Linked DNA regions of Homo sapiens. The protein of the gene in region 2 purifies or fractionates together with the protein of the main gene of each other region. This does not show direct contact. Each region holds a gene or a part of one and is shown on either strand. Other genes may lie near its edges. The genes, in order: KLC1 and CLSTN1.

Region 1 (8,100 bases), on a different chromosome or scaffold from region 2:
TCTCAAACTGCTGACCTCAGGCGATCCACCCGCCTCAGCCTCCCAAAGTGCTAGGGTTACAGGTGTGAGCCATTGCACCTGGGCTGAAACCAGTATTTTATGTAGCAAAGAAATGATCAGTAATATACTCAAGACGAGAGTATTTGGGAAGATTTAAGTGTCAAATTTCAGGGCATAGAATAAAAGTGACAAGCACATTAAGATTGCAAATACTGGTCTTAAATGTCTGTTGGGAACCAACTGAATGGCAGGTACTGTGCTGAGTAGTCAGCGATACCTTGATAAAAGAGCCACTGTTGGCCGGGCGTGGTCATGCCTGTAATCTTAACTCTTTGGGAGGCTGAGGCTGCAGATCGCCCCTAGCTCTTTGGGAGGCCGAGGCAGGTGGATCACCTGAGGTCAGGAGTTTAAGACCAGCCTGGCCAACATGGTGAAACCCCGTCCCTACCAAAAATACAAAAATTAGCCAGGTGTGGTGGTGCACACCTGTAATTCCAGCTACTCATGAGGCTGAGGAAGGAGAATCGCTTGAACCGGGAAGTGGAGGTTGTAGTGAGCCGAGATCACGTCACTGCAGTCCAGCCAGACTCCGTCTCAAAACAAACAAAAAGAGCCGCTGTCAGCCGTGCAGTGGCTCACTCCTGTAATCCCAGCACTTTGGGAGGCCAAGATGGACCGATCACCTGAGGTCAGGAGTTTGAGACCCGCCTGGACAACATGGTGAAACCCTGTCTCTACTAAAAATACAAAAAAAACCAAAACCGGGTGTGGTGGCGGGTGCCTCTAATCGCAGCTACTCAGAAGGCTGAGGCTGGAGAATCGCTTGAACTGGGGAGGCAGAGGTTGCAGTGAGCCGAGATCACGCCATTGCACTCCAGCCTGGGCAACAAGAGCAAAACTCTGCCTCAAAAAAAATAAAACCAAAAAACAAAAAAACTCTGTCCTCTAGGAGCTCACAGGCTGGCATGGGCAGGTACCACAGACCAGGTTAAAGGCTGTGGAGTGCACTGAGGAGGCGATTCTTCACAAAAGAAAAGTACCAATCAGCCAGTGTCAGGGGGTCAGGGGTGGGATTGGGATTGGGGTTCCTGCTTGGAGGAAATAAATCCTGAGGTTGTGCTGCTGTAAAGGGGCATGTTGGGAAGGGGACATGGGAGTGAGTGTGGAAAGACGAGGTTAGGAAAGGCCTTGAATGACTTCTTAGAAGTCTGCTTTCATTCTGAGGTTTACAAAGGAGGGTTGGAAGATTTTTTTTTTTTTTGAGATGGAGTCTTGCTCTGTCACCCAGGCTGGAACGCAGTGGCACGACCTCTGCTCACTGCAGCCTCTACCTCCCAGGTTCAAGTGATTCTCCTGCCTCAGCCTCCCGAGTAGCTGGGACTACAGGTGCGTGCCACCACATCCGGCTAATTTTTTGTATTTTTAGTAGAGTCGGGGTTTCACCACGTTAGCCAGGATGGTCTCCATCTCCTGACCTCGTGATCCGCCCGCCTTGGCCTCTCAAAGTGCTGGGATTACAGGCGTGAGCCACCGCGCCTGGCCGGAGGGTTGGAAGATTCTGAGGAGCCAGTTGCCACTTTAGAAAGAGCATAGGCAGTGGTGGGGCAGGTGCTGTGAACTGGGATGAGGTTAATTAGGAAGCCATTAACCCCAACTCGGCAAGCCTCAGGATTAGGGCAGTGACAGAAGGAACAGAGAAGCTAGGTGGGGGCAGGGGCTGGGCTGTAAGGGTTATAGTGGAGCTGATTTGGGGCTGACTGGATTGGGGTAAATGAGGAGCTGCAGGGAGGACTCCCCAGAATGATCCTGTGAAAACCTGAGTCACTCCTCTGTTAAAGCTTTTGTCAGTGTCCTCTGAGCACCCCACCCTGTCTCTTTTCATCTTCCTGCTCTGGCCCTACTCAAGCACTTCCAGGTGCATCTGGAGTTCTGAACCAAACCCATTCTTGTAGTGATTAGCATTTCTTCACTTCCCCACATACTCCTTAGCCTCTGCCCTGATTTTTCTCCTTAGCACACCTCACTATCTTAAATGCTGTATTATTATTATTTTTTTTTTATTATTACTTTTTGAGACGGAGTCTCGCTCTGTCACCCAGGATGGAGTGCAGTGGCATGATCTCAGCTCACTGCATCCTCTGCCTCCCGGGTTCAAGCCATTCTCCTGCCTCAGCCTCCCAAGTAGTTGGGACTACAGGCATGTGCCACCACACCTAGCTAATTTTTGTATTTTTAGTAGAGACAGGATTTCACCATGTTGGCCAGGCTGGTCTCGAACTCTTGACCTTAAGTGATCCACCTGCCTCAGCCTCCCAAAGTGCTGGGATTACAGGCCTGAGCCACCGTGCCTGGCCAATACTGTATTATTTTAATCATTTTAAAATTTTTATTGTTTGTCTCCACTTAACATTCATAACCTCCACAAGGATGGGGAGTTTTGTCTCTTGTATTCAGTGTCGGTGCTTGGCGTGTAATAGGAACTTAGTAAATGTTTGTTGAAGGAATGCATCTAGAATGATCCTCATCTCTAATTTGGGTGATTCACTGGCTGGTGACACTCATCCAAGGAGGGAAAATGGGAGAAGGATGAGATTATGAGTTTGTTTTTGGACATGTTAAATCTGAAGTGCTTGTGGGGCAGCCAAGTGGACTAGTGGGCAGTTAGAGATACATCTTTGGAGCTCAAGACAGAGGCTGAGGCTGGAGGTAAAGATTCCAGAGACTGCATCATATCGTTGAGCCAGTCGGGTGTGATGTCCATCTGGTAGAGATGGGGAGTGGGTCTAAGAGGAGAGGGTCCTGGGAAACCAAGAGAAGAGGAGGGAGGAGATCAGTAGCAAATTGGCTAAGAAGTCAGTGATGGGTTGGACTGAGAAGTCTCTATGGATTTTGCTTCTAGGAGGTTACTAATGACCTTTAACTTTTTTTTTTTTAAATATAGTTTATGTAGAGACGGGGGTCTCACTGTGTTTCCCAGGCTGGTCTCGAATTCCTGGGCTCAAGCCATCTGCCTGCCGTGGCCTCCCAAAGTGTCGGGATTACAGGTTTGAGCCACTGCACCCGGCCTGTTGCCTGTTTCCTGAGAATATTACCTCTTAAGGATGGAGGCTATTTCGAGATGATCTTCATTCGTTCTCCCAAGGCATCCTTTGTGGCGTTGTACTCTGTAGCCTCCTAGTTAGTATACTCATGGATCAGAAATGAATTATGATTTTTTTTTAGTTTTAACTAATTTTTGGAGGCAGATGAAAGCAGTTTGCATATATGCTTTTTGAATTTGAAAAGTGCTATCTGAACTTAAAGCAACGGATATGGAGCAAACATGTTAAGCTGAGTTACGTGCATACGTGAACTGAGTTACTTCCTTGGTTCTAAAATATCTGTTACCTTCATTTAAACCATAGATTGTTCCCTGACTTCAGTTGCATAACATAAATTTATGTTCAGGCTTCTCTGAAGTTCACTATGCTGCTACTAAAACTGATCAGAGTGATGTTTGCACTGTTCCAGAGAAAATAGGTACTGTAAACCCTGCGGATGTCATATGTGTCTGTAGTTTCAGTTACTCCGAAGGCTGAGGTGGGAGAATCAGTTGAGCCCAGGAGTTCAAACTAGCTTGGGCAATATAGTGAGACCTTGTTTCTTAAAAAAATAAAAGGCTGTGCTTGGTGGCTAATGTCTGTAATCCCAGCACTTTGGGAGGCTGAGGAGGGCGGATCACCTGAGGTCAGGAGTTTGAGACCAGCCTGGCCAACATGGGTGAAACCTTGTCTCTACTAAAAATATAAAATTAGCCGCGTGTGGTAGTATGCTTCTGTAGTCCCGGGTATTTGGGAAGCTGAGGTAGGAGAATCACTTGAACCCGGGAGGCGGAGGTTGCAGTGAGCCAGATCGAGCCACGGCACTCCAGCCTGGGCGACAGAGTGAGACTCCCATCTCAAAAAGAAAAAAAAAAAGTAAAATAGGTACTGTTACTGAGATTCTACTGTTGAGGAATTTGAGGGTGAGAGAGGGGAAGTTTCAGAAACCAAAGTTACACAGCTGTGAAGTCAAGATTCTAACTCAGTTTTTTTGCTTCGCGGTATAAGCTTTGAATCACCTTGCAGTACTTAAAGCTGCAGCTTCAAGTGAATCATGATAATGCTGTTTAATCCTATCATTACTTTTTCTTGGGGAAACCTCGCGCCACTTCAATTTTTTTCAAAGATGTACCATTTTAACCATTTAAAAGTTCACAATTCAGTAGTGTTAAGGATATGCACATCGTTGTTCCACATTTCTGGAACTCTTTCATCTGGCAGCGCTGAGACTGTAGCCCCCAAATACTGATATCTCCTCCTCCCTCGCCCTCCCCCGGTAACCATCTTTTCTACTTTGTTTCTATGATTTTGACTACTTTCAATACTTTATTTTTTATTTTTTTTGAGATGGAGTTTCACTCTTGTTGCCCAGGCTGGAGTGCAGTGGCACGATCTCAGCTCACTGCAACCTCTGCCTCCCGAGTTCAAACAATTCTCCTGCTTTAATTTCCTGAGTATCTGGGATTACAGTCATGGGCCACCATGCCGGGCTAATTTTGTATTTTTAGTAGAGATGGGTTTCTCCATGTTGGTCAGGCTGGTCTTGAACTCCTGACCTCAGGTGATCACCCCCCATCGGCCTCCCAAAGTGTTGGGATTACAGGCGTGAGCCACCGTGCCTGGCCTTGCCTGTCTTTTTCATCTGAGCCATTCTAGCGGGGTATAGTGGCATCTTGTTAGTTTTAATGTGCATTTCACTGATGACTCATAATGGTGAGCGCTTACATGCTTGTCGGTCTTTGTATGCCTGGATTTGTAAAGTGTCTGTTCAAGACTTTTGCCCATTTAAAAAATTGGATTGTTTGTATTTTTAAGTTCCTTACATATTTATTTATTTATTTATTTTTGAGATGGAGTCTCCTCTGTTGCCCAGGCTTGAGTGCAGTGGCGCGATCTCGGCTCACTGCAAGCTCTGCCTCCCGGGTTCACGCCATTCCCCTGCCTCAGCCTCTGGAGTAGCTGGGACTACAGGCGCCTGCCACCACGCCCAGCTAATTTTTTTTTTTGTTGTATTTTTATTAGATATGGGTTTCACCATGTTAGCCAGGATGGTCTCGATCTCCTGACCTCGTGATCCGCCCGTCTTGGCCTCCCAAAGTGCTGGTATTAACAGGCGTGAGCCACCACGCCCAGCAGTTCCTTACATGTTTTTTTTTTTTCAGATGGAGTCTTGCTCTTGCTCTATTGCCCAGGCTGACGTATTTTTTATACAAGCCGTTTGCCAGATATATATGTGTCGCAAATATTTTTTCCTAATCTATGGCTTAACTTTATTTTTTGGTAGTGCCTTTTAATAAATCAATACTTTTAATTTTTCTTAACCATGCTCTGGCAAGTTTTATTAAAGAAATTTTCGGCTGGGCGCGGTGGCTCACACCTATAATCCCAGCACTTTCGGAGGCCGAGGCGGGTGGATCATGAAGTCAGGAGTTTGAGACTACCCTGGCCAGTATGGTGAAACCCCGTCTCTACTAAAATTACAAAAATTCGCCAGGCGTGGTGGTGTGCACCTGTAGTCCCAGCTACTTGGGAGGCTGAGGCAGAAGAATCGCTTGATCCCGGGAGGCAGAGGTTGCAGTGAGTCGAGATTGCGACACTGCATTCCAGCCTGGGCAACAGAGTGAGACTCTGTTTCAAAAAAAAAAAAGAAATTTTCGCAGGGTTTATTTTTATCTTTTATTTTTTGTTGTTGCCTAAGCAACATCCGCTTTCCTTAATTCTGAAAGCATATCTATAAATAAGTCACCCAAAGGCCAAATAGATGCATTTGTTTTGTCTGGTTGTTAATGTTTTCTTTTTAAAAAAATATTTATGTATTTATTTAATTTTTGAGACAGGATCTTGCTCTGTTGCCTAGGTTGGAGTGCAGTGTCACAGTCGTGGCTCAGTGCAGCCTCGTGTTCAAGTGATCGTCCCACCTCAGCCCCTGAAGTAGCTGGGACTACATGTGCGCACCACCATGACCGGCTTGTTTTTTGTAGAGACAGGGTTTCATGGCATTGCCCTGGCTAGTCTTTAACTTCTGGGCTCAAATGATCTGCTCTCCTTGGCCTCCCAAAGTGCTGGGATTACAGACGTAAGCCACTATGCTGGGCCACCAAGATACTATTTATTTCCCTGAATATGACGTGGACTGTTCCTGTAGGCTGGTCCCTTCACCTCAGGACCCTCTTTGCTGGTATTGTTTGGGGCTTCTGCGCCTGTATATGGGGATGGGACCTGACCCTGCTGATCTGGCCAGCACTGCCAGGGTTTCCTGTTGCCCATCTCTCGGTAAAACATCCCTTATAAACCTTTGCAAGGAAAAAACCTCTGTTTTCTTCCCTCCATCCCATTTTTCCTTAATGTGCTACCCTCGTCTGTATTCATAGGAACTTTATTTAACACTTGAGAACTGAGAGTAATTGACATTTCTTTCTTGGCTGTCCTTCATTCTGTGCACCCAGACCTATTGCTTTTTCTACCACATTCTTTTTCTCTTTTAGAAAATTGAAATGTAAGTCACATCACATCAAATGCCCCATTTTAAAGCGTGCAGTGCAGTGATTTTTAATGTATTCTCTGTTTTGTGCAACTACCATCTATCTAATTCCACACATTCCTTTTCCCTTTTTAGTGCTTGGTGTTTTTTTTTTTTCTTAACTTTCTTCATCACTGTAAGCTTTCCCCACCTGGCTGAATTTCACATGATAAAACCAGGGGAGGTAAAGTGACCAAAGATGATGCCCTTTGCTTCTCTGGCCTTTGCTTTCATTTCATTAATTTTTTTTTTTTTTTTTTTTTTTGAGTCAGAGTCTCGCTCTGTCACCCAGGCTGGAGTCTGGGTGTATATGTATGAACACAGTGGGGTGTGTGGGTGTGTGTGAACATAGTGGTGTGTATGTATGAACACAGTGGGGGTGTGTGTGCGTGAGCACAGTGGTGTGTGTATGTATGAACATAGGGGTGTGTGTGAGCACAGTGGTGCATATGTATGAACATAGGGTGTATGTGTGTGAGCACAAGGGTGTGTGTGTGTGTGTGCGTGCATGCAGAGTGGTAGGGTTCCTGAAGCAGAGGGACACTTGGGGCAAAGAGACCTTGGATTGTGTTCTTCTTGTTGGTAGAATAAGCTTAAATCACTTCATGTATCCCAGTTTCCTCAGCTGTAAATGGGAATTATAATGATAGGTCATCAAACTACCTGCAGACTTTTTTTGTTGTTATTTCGATAAAATATTACACATTTGAAAATGCTCCCAAAACTAACATATTGGACAGATGCGAATTCTTCTTTCCTTTTTTTTGAGATGGAGTCTTGCTCTGTTGTCCAGGCTGGAGTACAGTGGCATGATCTTGGCTCATTGCAGCCTCAGCCTCCCAAGTAGCTGGAACTACAGGCATGTGCCACCACGCCTAGCTAATTTTTATATTTTTAGTAGAGATGGGGTTTCACCATGTTGGCCAGGCTGGTCTTGAACTCCTGACCTCAAGTGATCCGCCTGCCTCAGCCTCCCAAAGTGTTGGGATTACAGGTGTGAGCCACCACGCCTGGCTCTTTCTTGTCTTTTACTTATTTATTTTTTTGTGACAGGGTTTCGCTGTGTCACCTAGGCTGGAGTATAGTGGTACAGCCAAAGCTTACTGTAGCCTTGAGCTCCCAGGCTCAAACAATCCTCCCACCTTAGCCTCCTGAGTAGCTGGGACCACAGGCGTGTGCCACCACACCCAACTAATTTTTATTTTTGTAGAGACAGGGTCTCACTGTATTCCCCAGGCTGGTCTTGAACTCCTGGGCTCAAGCAGTGCTCCTGTCTTGGCCTCCCAAAGTGCTGGGATTACTGGTATGAGCCACCACACCCGGCCCAGATGTGAATTCTTTATTTTTATTTTATTATTTTTGAGACAGGGTCTCAACTCTGTCACCCAGGCTAGAGCACAATGGTGCAATCATGTTTCACTGCAGCCTTGATTTCCTGGACTCCAGTGATACACCTCAGCCTCCTGAGTAGCTGGGACCACAGGTGCATGTCACCACACC
Region 2 (8,100 bases):
ATGATTGTAATAATAGCAAACATTTGTTAAGTGCTCTCTTTCCGCCAGGCAATGTTTTAAGCACTTTACATGTTTTGACCCGTGGATTCTCACTGTTAGGTAGTAGTGAAAATGAATAAACTATAGCTACCTATACCAGCAAGGATGAATAAATCTTAGATACACAAAGTTGCATGAAAAAGCAAGTCATGGCCAGGTGCGGTGACTCACGCCTGTAATCCCAGTACTTTGGGAGGCGGAGGCGGGCGGATCACTTGAGATCAGGAGTTCAAGACCAGCCTGGCCAATATGGTGAAATCCCATTTCTACTAAAAATACAAAAATTAGCGAGGCTTGGTGGCAGGCGCCTGTAATCCCAGCTGCTTGGGAGGCTGAGGCATGAGAATCGCTTGAACCCAGAAAGTGGAGGTTGCAGTGAGCTGAGATGCTACCACTGTACTCCAGCCTGGGCAACAGAGTGAGACTCTGTCTCAAAAAAAGAAAAAGAAGCAAGTCATAAAAACTGCACGTGGGCTGGGCGCAGTGGCTCACGCCTGTAATCCCAGCACTTTGGGAGGCCGAGGCGGGCGGATCACCTGATGCCAGGAGTTCGAGACCAGCCTGACCAACACAGAGAAACCCCATCTCTACTAAAAATACAAAATTAGCCAGGCATGGTGGTGCATGCCTGTAATCCCAGCTACTGAGGAAGCTGAGGCAGGAGAATCGCTTGAACCCGGGAGGCAGAGGTTGCAGTGAGCCGAGATCTTGTTACTCCATCCTGGGCAACAAGAGTGAAACTCCGTTCCCACCCCCCCCCAAAACAAACAAACAAAAAACTGCATGCCATGTGATACCATTTTTAAAACCTTAAAACCAAGCAAAATGAAACAACACTGTTCAGGGAGAATAAATGGTAGCACTATTAGCAAAGCAAGGGAATTCAGGTCGTGTTACCTTTGGGGGAGAGAAGGTGCCACCAGTGAGGGCCCAGTGTGTTGAGGGGCAGCGAAATTCCTGATCTCTTCACATTTCCACTCCTCCATAGTAAAGGGTTTATAAGCAGGATATATATTGACTTGGTAGAACAGAGCTTTCATGTAATGAGAACAGTGACTGTTGTAGCATCCCTACAGTTAGTTTTGAATCTGGTTTCTATTCACATTTAAGCAGATGTTCCATTAGCAGAGGGGTTTATATTTGTTGCCTTGGTTGGGTACTTTGGATTAGAAAAATATTGTCATTTTTTTCAGTTCAAGAACAAAGGGTTAAAACCTTTTGTTCGGCTGGGTGCGGTGGCTCACGCCTGTAATCCCAGCACTTTGGGAGGCCGAGGCGGGTGGATCATGAGGTCAGGAGATCGAGACCATCCTGGCTAACATGGTGAAACCCTGTCTCTACTAAAAATACAAAAAATTAACTGGGCGTGGTGGCGGGCGCCTGTAGTCCCAGCTACTCGGGAGGCTGAGGTAGGAGAATGGCGTGAACCAGGGAGGCGGAGCTTGCAGTGAGCCGAGATCACGCCACTGCACTCCAGTCTGGGCGACTGAGCAAGACTCCATCTCAAAAAAAAAAAAAAACCTTTTGCTCCAAATTTTTGTTTCATTAAATCTACTGATGAGTTGAATGTTACCAGAATCTAGCTGAGAGAATTTAGGTTGGAAATGAACATCTGAAAACTGCAAAATAACAAATAGATGTACTTATTCATGGTTTGTCACTAGAGTGTTCATTAAAAGAAAAATCCTGCCGGGCACGGGGGCTCACTCCTGTAATCCCAGCACTTTGGGAGGCCGAGGTGGGCGGATCACGAGGTCAGGAGATCGAGACCATCCTGGCTAACATGGTGATACCCTGTCTCTACTAAAAATACAAAAAATTATCCGGGCGTGGTGGCGGGCGCCTGTAGTCCCAGCTACTCGGGAGGCTGAGGCAGGAGAATGGTGAACCCAGGAGGCGGAGCTTGCAGTGAGCCGAGATAGCACCACTGCATTCCAGCCTGGGTGACAGAGCGAGACTCTGTCTCAAAAAAAAGAAAAATCCTAATGACCCCTGAGGGTGTTAGGACACTTCATGTAGGAGTATTTCATCCCTAAATTAATAACTTCAGAATTATGCAGTAGTTCATGGTAAGTTGGATTCAAAGTGACATTTTGTTCCTGAAGATTAGGTTTTGCTGTAGCAATCGTAGAAGCCGGTCGCTGAGCTTGGTGTGGAAATGTGTAATATGTGCACCTTTGACTTTTTTCCTTAGTGTATTCCATCTTCATTCTTTCCTGTATTACTGACATGGGCTTATCTTTTCTCCCTTTAGAGAGTTTTGAGGTGACAGTCACCAAAGAAGGTGATAAAGGGTTCTTTCTTCCCCTCTTATGAATATTAACCCACTAACTTTGTTTATAAAATTGGGAATCAGCCCTTAAACAGGAGAAACTGTCATGCTCTTTTATCCTTATTTATTCTCCTACTTTGTTTCTATTTTAAAGTATATTGATGGAAATTGTATGTAACCAGACCCTTGGTTAGAAATATCTGGAAATCAGACATCCATTTGAACTGTATGGATAACACTGTACATTTTTGTTTAATAGAACTTCAGAGATTTGCTTTATAACAATTTTCTATTAGTTGGAATTGTGGAAGGAGTGCAGTCTTATTTTCATGTGAAATACATTTTGTGGAGTTTCACATCGACATCAAAACATTTATACTGTTCTCCCATGGACAAGAATGGAAACATAGATTTTTAACTCCTAATTAAGTTGTGAGCCAATTTAGATGTAGAGAAGTTCCCAGGCTGGTGTCTTTTTCAGGTTTGATAGGATAAAGTCCGAAACAAAGGCAAGTCTAGCCAGTCCCTCCCATAATAGAAACTGTGTCTGAATCGTAGATGATAAAATAGCTGTTGAAATGGATGCCTGACGAGTCGGTATTTCTACCTTTCTCATTGAGTAGTTTGTTTTGATTCCCTAATTTTAGCCAGGCTCATTGCACAGGAAGACTTGTTTCCTTTGATTTTTTTTTTTGACAGAATTTCTGTAATTACGGTGCTGATCCTATATCTCACGCTTCCTCCTCTCTCAACACATAACTGCGTTTTAGCTTCTCTCTGGTCCAAATCAAACTGGCTGCCAGCCCTCCCAGGAGCTGGGGCAGCGCTGGTGTTCTCAGGCCTGGCTGTGTGCTAATGAGACTCCTTTTACCCTCGAGCTATCTAAGTGCTCCTGTGGAATGCCTGTCTATATTTTCTTCTCTCTCTCTTTTGTATTCCTGCATGAATGGATGCAAAGTAAACAAGTTGCTTGGAAAGCCAGAATCTGCTTCATCTTACTAAAGCCCGAGAACTTCCCCATGTTTAAAACACAGTGCCCCTGCTTTGTCCACGGACCCTCCAAACCCCTGGCTGCCAAATTGTTGTCATTTATTTTCTTTGGGGGTGGAGATGGGGGGAGGAGGGCAAGGTGCAGAAGATCTATGTGGTAGGAATTCTTACCTGTTCTGCTTTGACTCCCTAGGTGAGATTTGTGGATTTAAAATTCACGGGCAGAATGTCCCCTTTGATGCAGTGGTAGTGGATAAATCCACTGGTGAGGGAGTCATTCGCTCCAAAGAGAAACTGGACTGTGAGCTGCAGAAAGACTATTCATTCACCATCCAGGCCTATGATTGTGGGAAGGGACCTGATGGCACCAACGTGAAAAAGTCTCATAAGTAAGTAAGCTGGACAAAGAGTGAACATAACCCACCGAGTAAACGTGTGTGCGCAGAACGAAAATAGTAGTGACTATTGCCTGCTCCCCAAGACTGTTTTTGAAATAGGCAGAAGATAGTTCTCAAGTGTCTACAATTAGATTGTAAACACTTGGAGGGCAGGAATCATGTCTCTCTACCCTTGTATACAGTTTCTAGCAAGAGCCTTGCTCACATTAGGCATATTAGGTTTTTTGGGGTTGTTTTTGTTTGTTTTTTGAGATGGAGTTTTGCTCTTGTTGCCCAGGCTGGAGTGCAATGGCATGATCTTGGCTCGCCGCAACCTCCGCCTCCTGGGTTCAAGCGATTCTCCTGCCTCAACCTCCCACATAGCTGGGATTACAGGCATGCGCCACCACGCTCAGCTAATTTTGTATTTTTAGTAGAGATGGGGATTCTCCATGTTGGTCAGGCTGGTCTCAAACTCCCGACCTCAGGTGATCCGCCTGCCTGGGCCTCCTAAAGTGCTGGGATTATAGGCGTGAGCCGTACCTGGCCTTTTTGTGTTTTGTTTTTGAGATGGAGTTTCGCTGTTTCACCCAAGCTGGAGTGTAGTGGCACGATCTTGGCTCATTGGAACCTCCGCCTTCCGGTTTCAAGTGATTTTTCTGCCTCAGCCTCCCGAGTAGCTGGGATTACAGGTGCCTGCCACCACGCCTGGCTAATTTTTGTATTTTTAGTAGAGACGGGTTTCACCATGTTGGCCAGGCTGGTATCAAACTCCTGACCCCATCATTCACCTGCCTCGGCCTCCCAAAGTGCTAGGATTACAGGCGTGAGCCACCACACCCGGCCTAGGTTTTTAATAAATGAATGAGTGAATAATTTTATCACACCAAATACTCTATTAAAGAAGTAAAGGCCCTACATTAAAAATTGAAAAAGTCTGCTTCTCCCTTAGGAAGGTTATTTTGTTGTCATATTTATCTTTTGCTGTAATTCCTAAGGGCATAAACTTAATCATTGTTGGCCAGGTGCAGTGGCTCACACCTATAATCCCAGCACTTTGGGAGGCTGAGGTGGGAAGATTGCTTGAGCCTAGGAGTTTGAGAGCAGCCTAGACAATGTAGGAGATGCCATCTCTACAAAACATAAACAGCCAGGTATGGTGGCACATGCCTGTGGTCTCAGCTACTTGGGAGGCTAAGGCGGGAGGATTGCTTGAGCCCGAGAGGTTGAGGCTGCAGTGAGCCATGATTGTGCCACTGTACTCCAGTCTGAGTGTCAGAATGAGACCCTGTCCCTAAAAAACAATAACAACAAAAATTGGCCAGGCACGGTGGCTCACGCCTGTAATCCCAGCACTTTGGGAGGCCGAGGCAGGCAGATCACCTGAGGTGATTTTCACCTGAGGTCAGGAGTTCATGACCAGCCTGGCCAACATGGAGAAACCCTGTCTCTACTAAAAATACAAAATTAACCAGGCATGGTGGCACGCGCCTGTAGTCCCTGCTTCTCGGGAGGCTGAGGCAGGAGAATCACTTGAACCTGGGAGGTGGAGGTTGCACTGAGCCAAGATCACATCATTGCACTCCAGCCTGGGCAAAAAGAATGAAACTCCGTCTCAAAAAAAAAAAAAAATTAGTCACTGCTGGTGGAAGTAGGCTGGCTCGCTGCCACAATCCTGAGTGTGTTGCTGCACCTCCTGCCAGTTAGGAACTGCAGTTGTAGCAGAGAGGGCTTTGGACAAGACAACATAGAACAGGGGTCGCCATACCTCAGGACGTGGGCCAGTACTGGTCCGTGGCCTGTTAGGAACCAGGCCACACAGCAGGAGGTCAACAGCATGTGAGCGAGTGAGCATTTCTGCCCGAGCTCCACCTCCTGTCACATCAGCAGCGGTATCAGATTCTCACAGGAGCGCGAACCCTGTTGTGAACTGAGCATGCCAGGGATCTAGGTTGTGCGCTCCTTATGAGAATCGACTGCCTGATGATCTGAGGTGGGGCATTTTCATCCCAAAACCATCCTCCCACCCCCATCTGTGGAGAAATTGCCTTCCATGAAATCAGTCCTTGGTGCCAAAAAGGCTGGGGACTGCTGGTGTTCTCAAGTCCAGTGTCTTCTACAATTAGATTGTAAGCTCTAGTCTTTTCTAGAGCTCTAGTCTTTTCTCCACCACTTGCTAGCCCTTTGGCATTGTGCAAATTTAATTTTGTTGAGTCTGTTTCTTTTTCTTTTGTTTTATTTATTTATTTATTTACTTATTTTTTGAGGCAGAGTCTCGCTCTGTCACCCAGGCTGGAGTGCGGTGGCACAATCTCGGCTCACTGCAACCTCCACCTCCAGGGTTCAAGCGATTCTCGTGCCTCAGCCTCCCAAGCAGCTGGGATTACAGGCACGCTCCACCACACCTGGCTAATTTTTGTATTTTTGGTAGAGACGGAGTTTCACCATGTTGGCCAGGATGGTCTTTAACTCTGACCTCTGGTGACCCTCCTGCCTCAGCCTCCCAAAGTGCTGGGATAGGTGTGAGCCACCACACCCGGCCCTGAGTCTCAGTTTCTACTTAGCACATCTACTAAAGAAGGGTATGTGGGCGAGATGGTGTCACATAACCCATTGTGAGGGTCAGACCGATGGCACTGGGATGAGGAGGCTCATGGTGAGCAGAAGGTGCAGTGCCCCAGTGAGTCTCTTCTCTTTTTCCACAGTGTAATGTTATTGTTTCCCTTGAAAAGGTCAGATTTTGACCAAAGTCCTTGACTGATTCAGAAGCATGCCCTGACCATTAGCCCTTGAAACCTACAGTTTTTTTTATTTGTAGCCAGGTCTGATGACACCCTAATTTTCTTGATAACTGAGCTGGGGTATTGGCAGGTGGCAACGGCCTGCCTCTCCTGAACTCTTCCATTTGTTGAATCAGGACCAGGTGATGCCATGGACTCCAGCCTATTCCCTAGAAGTAGGACAGAATTCGTTTGAACTCTCAGAATCAAACCATTTCATGCTTTCTCTGTTTCATACCCCTTCTTCCCTTGGCTCTATTTTTTTTCTGGATTTTGCTACAAAATATGTTTCAACTTTATAATTGGAGAGCAAACAGACGTCTGGTATTGTTTATCTCCCTTCTGCCTGTCTTGTCCCATATTGTCAAAAAAAAACACCCAAGTCTCTTTTATTTTAGATGATTGGTTTTTTGCTTTATTCTTAGGATATGGAAGAATCGACCCAAATCCCTCTTTTAACTTTCTGTTATCTCCACACTTGAATGAAAAGCAGTGAATAGCTTGTTTAATTTTTGACTTCATCATATGAATTTCATGAAACAAGGTATCAGAAACAGGAAATTTTAAAGTAGGGCAGAATTGGGTAAACACACATACACACTCTCTGTCTCTCTCTCACACTGAAAACAAGCAGAAAAATATTTTTCTCCCTCCCTTTGTCCAGAGCAACTGTTCATATTCAGGTGAACGACGTGAATGAGTACGCGCCCGTGTTCAAGGAGAAGTCCTACAAAGCCACGGTCATCGAGGGGAAGCAGTACGACAGCATTTTGAGGGTGGAGGCCGTGGATGCCGACTGCTCCCCTCAGTTCAGCCAGATTTGCAGCTACGAAATCATCACTCCAGACGTGCCCTTTACTGTTGACAAAGATGGTAAGAATCGAGGAGCCGGCTTTTCAGCTAGGTAGACAGTCCCTGCTAACCCCACTGACTTTACACCCCAGCTTCTGTGCTTCGTCAGAACTTCATGGAACTCACAAGTTGGAGACCTAACCTGGTGTGTGTTTGCTTTTAATTGTAAAAACATTTAAGTTTCTACTTTGTTCCCTGACAACTTCTTCTCTGGAACCTGTAAGTCCTGTGTTCTCTTGTGGGGCTCACCTCTTTTTTGCTTTCCCACCAAAATCAAATAAAAATCCTCCTACCTGACATGGCTTTGTTTTTTTAATCTTCTTAACTTTCAGTCCACATGCATCTGAATGAGACTGACCTTTACATTTAGTTTGTCTCATTTTCTGTTCTCCATTAAGTTTTTTGTTTTTGTTTTTGTGGTTTTTTTTTGAGACAGTTTCTCACTCTGTTCCCCAGGCTGGAGTACAGTGGTGCGATCTCAGCTCACTGCAACCTCTGCCTCCCGGGTTCAAGTGATTCTCCTACCTTAGCCTCTCGAGTAGCTGGGATTACAGGTGCCCACCACCACGCCCAGCTAATTTTTTGTTGTTGTTGTTTGTATTTTTAGTAGAGATAGGGTTTCACCATGTTGGCCAGACTGGTCTTGAACTCCTGACCTCAGGTGATCCGCCCACCTTGGCCTCCCAAAGTGCTGGGATTACATGTGTGAGCCACCGCGCCTGGCCATGTTCTCCATTAAGTTAGAATCTCCTGTGACATCTTTTTTTTTTTTTTTTTTGTTTGAGGGAAG

Evidence for each region.
Region 1: the proteins of CLSTN1 (region 2) and KLC1 purify together in Homo sapiens (co-immunoprecipitation; 3 studies listed by BioGRID and IntAct, with this or other methods). This does not show direct contact.

The regions. Positions count from the first base shown.
Region 1 is NC_000014.9:103,631,815-103,639,914, forward strand, and holds part of KLC1 (kinesin light chain 1), read left to right. Parts: intron 1-8,100. UniProt on the Homo sapiens protein: Kinesin is a microtubule-associated force-producing protein that may play a role in organelle transport. The light chain may function in coupling of cargo to the heavy chain or in the modulation of its ATPase activity.
Region 2 is NC_000001.11:9,750,704-9,758,803, reverse strand, and holds part of CLSTN1 (calsyntenin-1 isoform 1 precursor), read left to right. Parts: intron 1-2,293; coding exon 2,294-2,323; intron 2,324-3,494; coding exon 3,495-3,690; intron 3,691-7,122; coding exon 7,123-7,331; intron 7,332-8,100. UniProt on the Homo sapiens protein: Postsynaptic adhesion molecule that binds to presynaptic neurexins to mediate both excitatory and inhibitory synapse formation.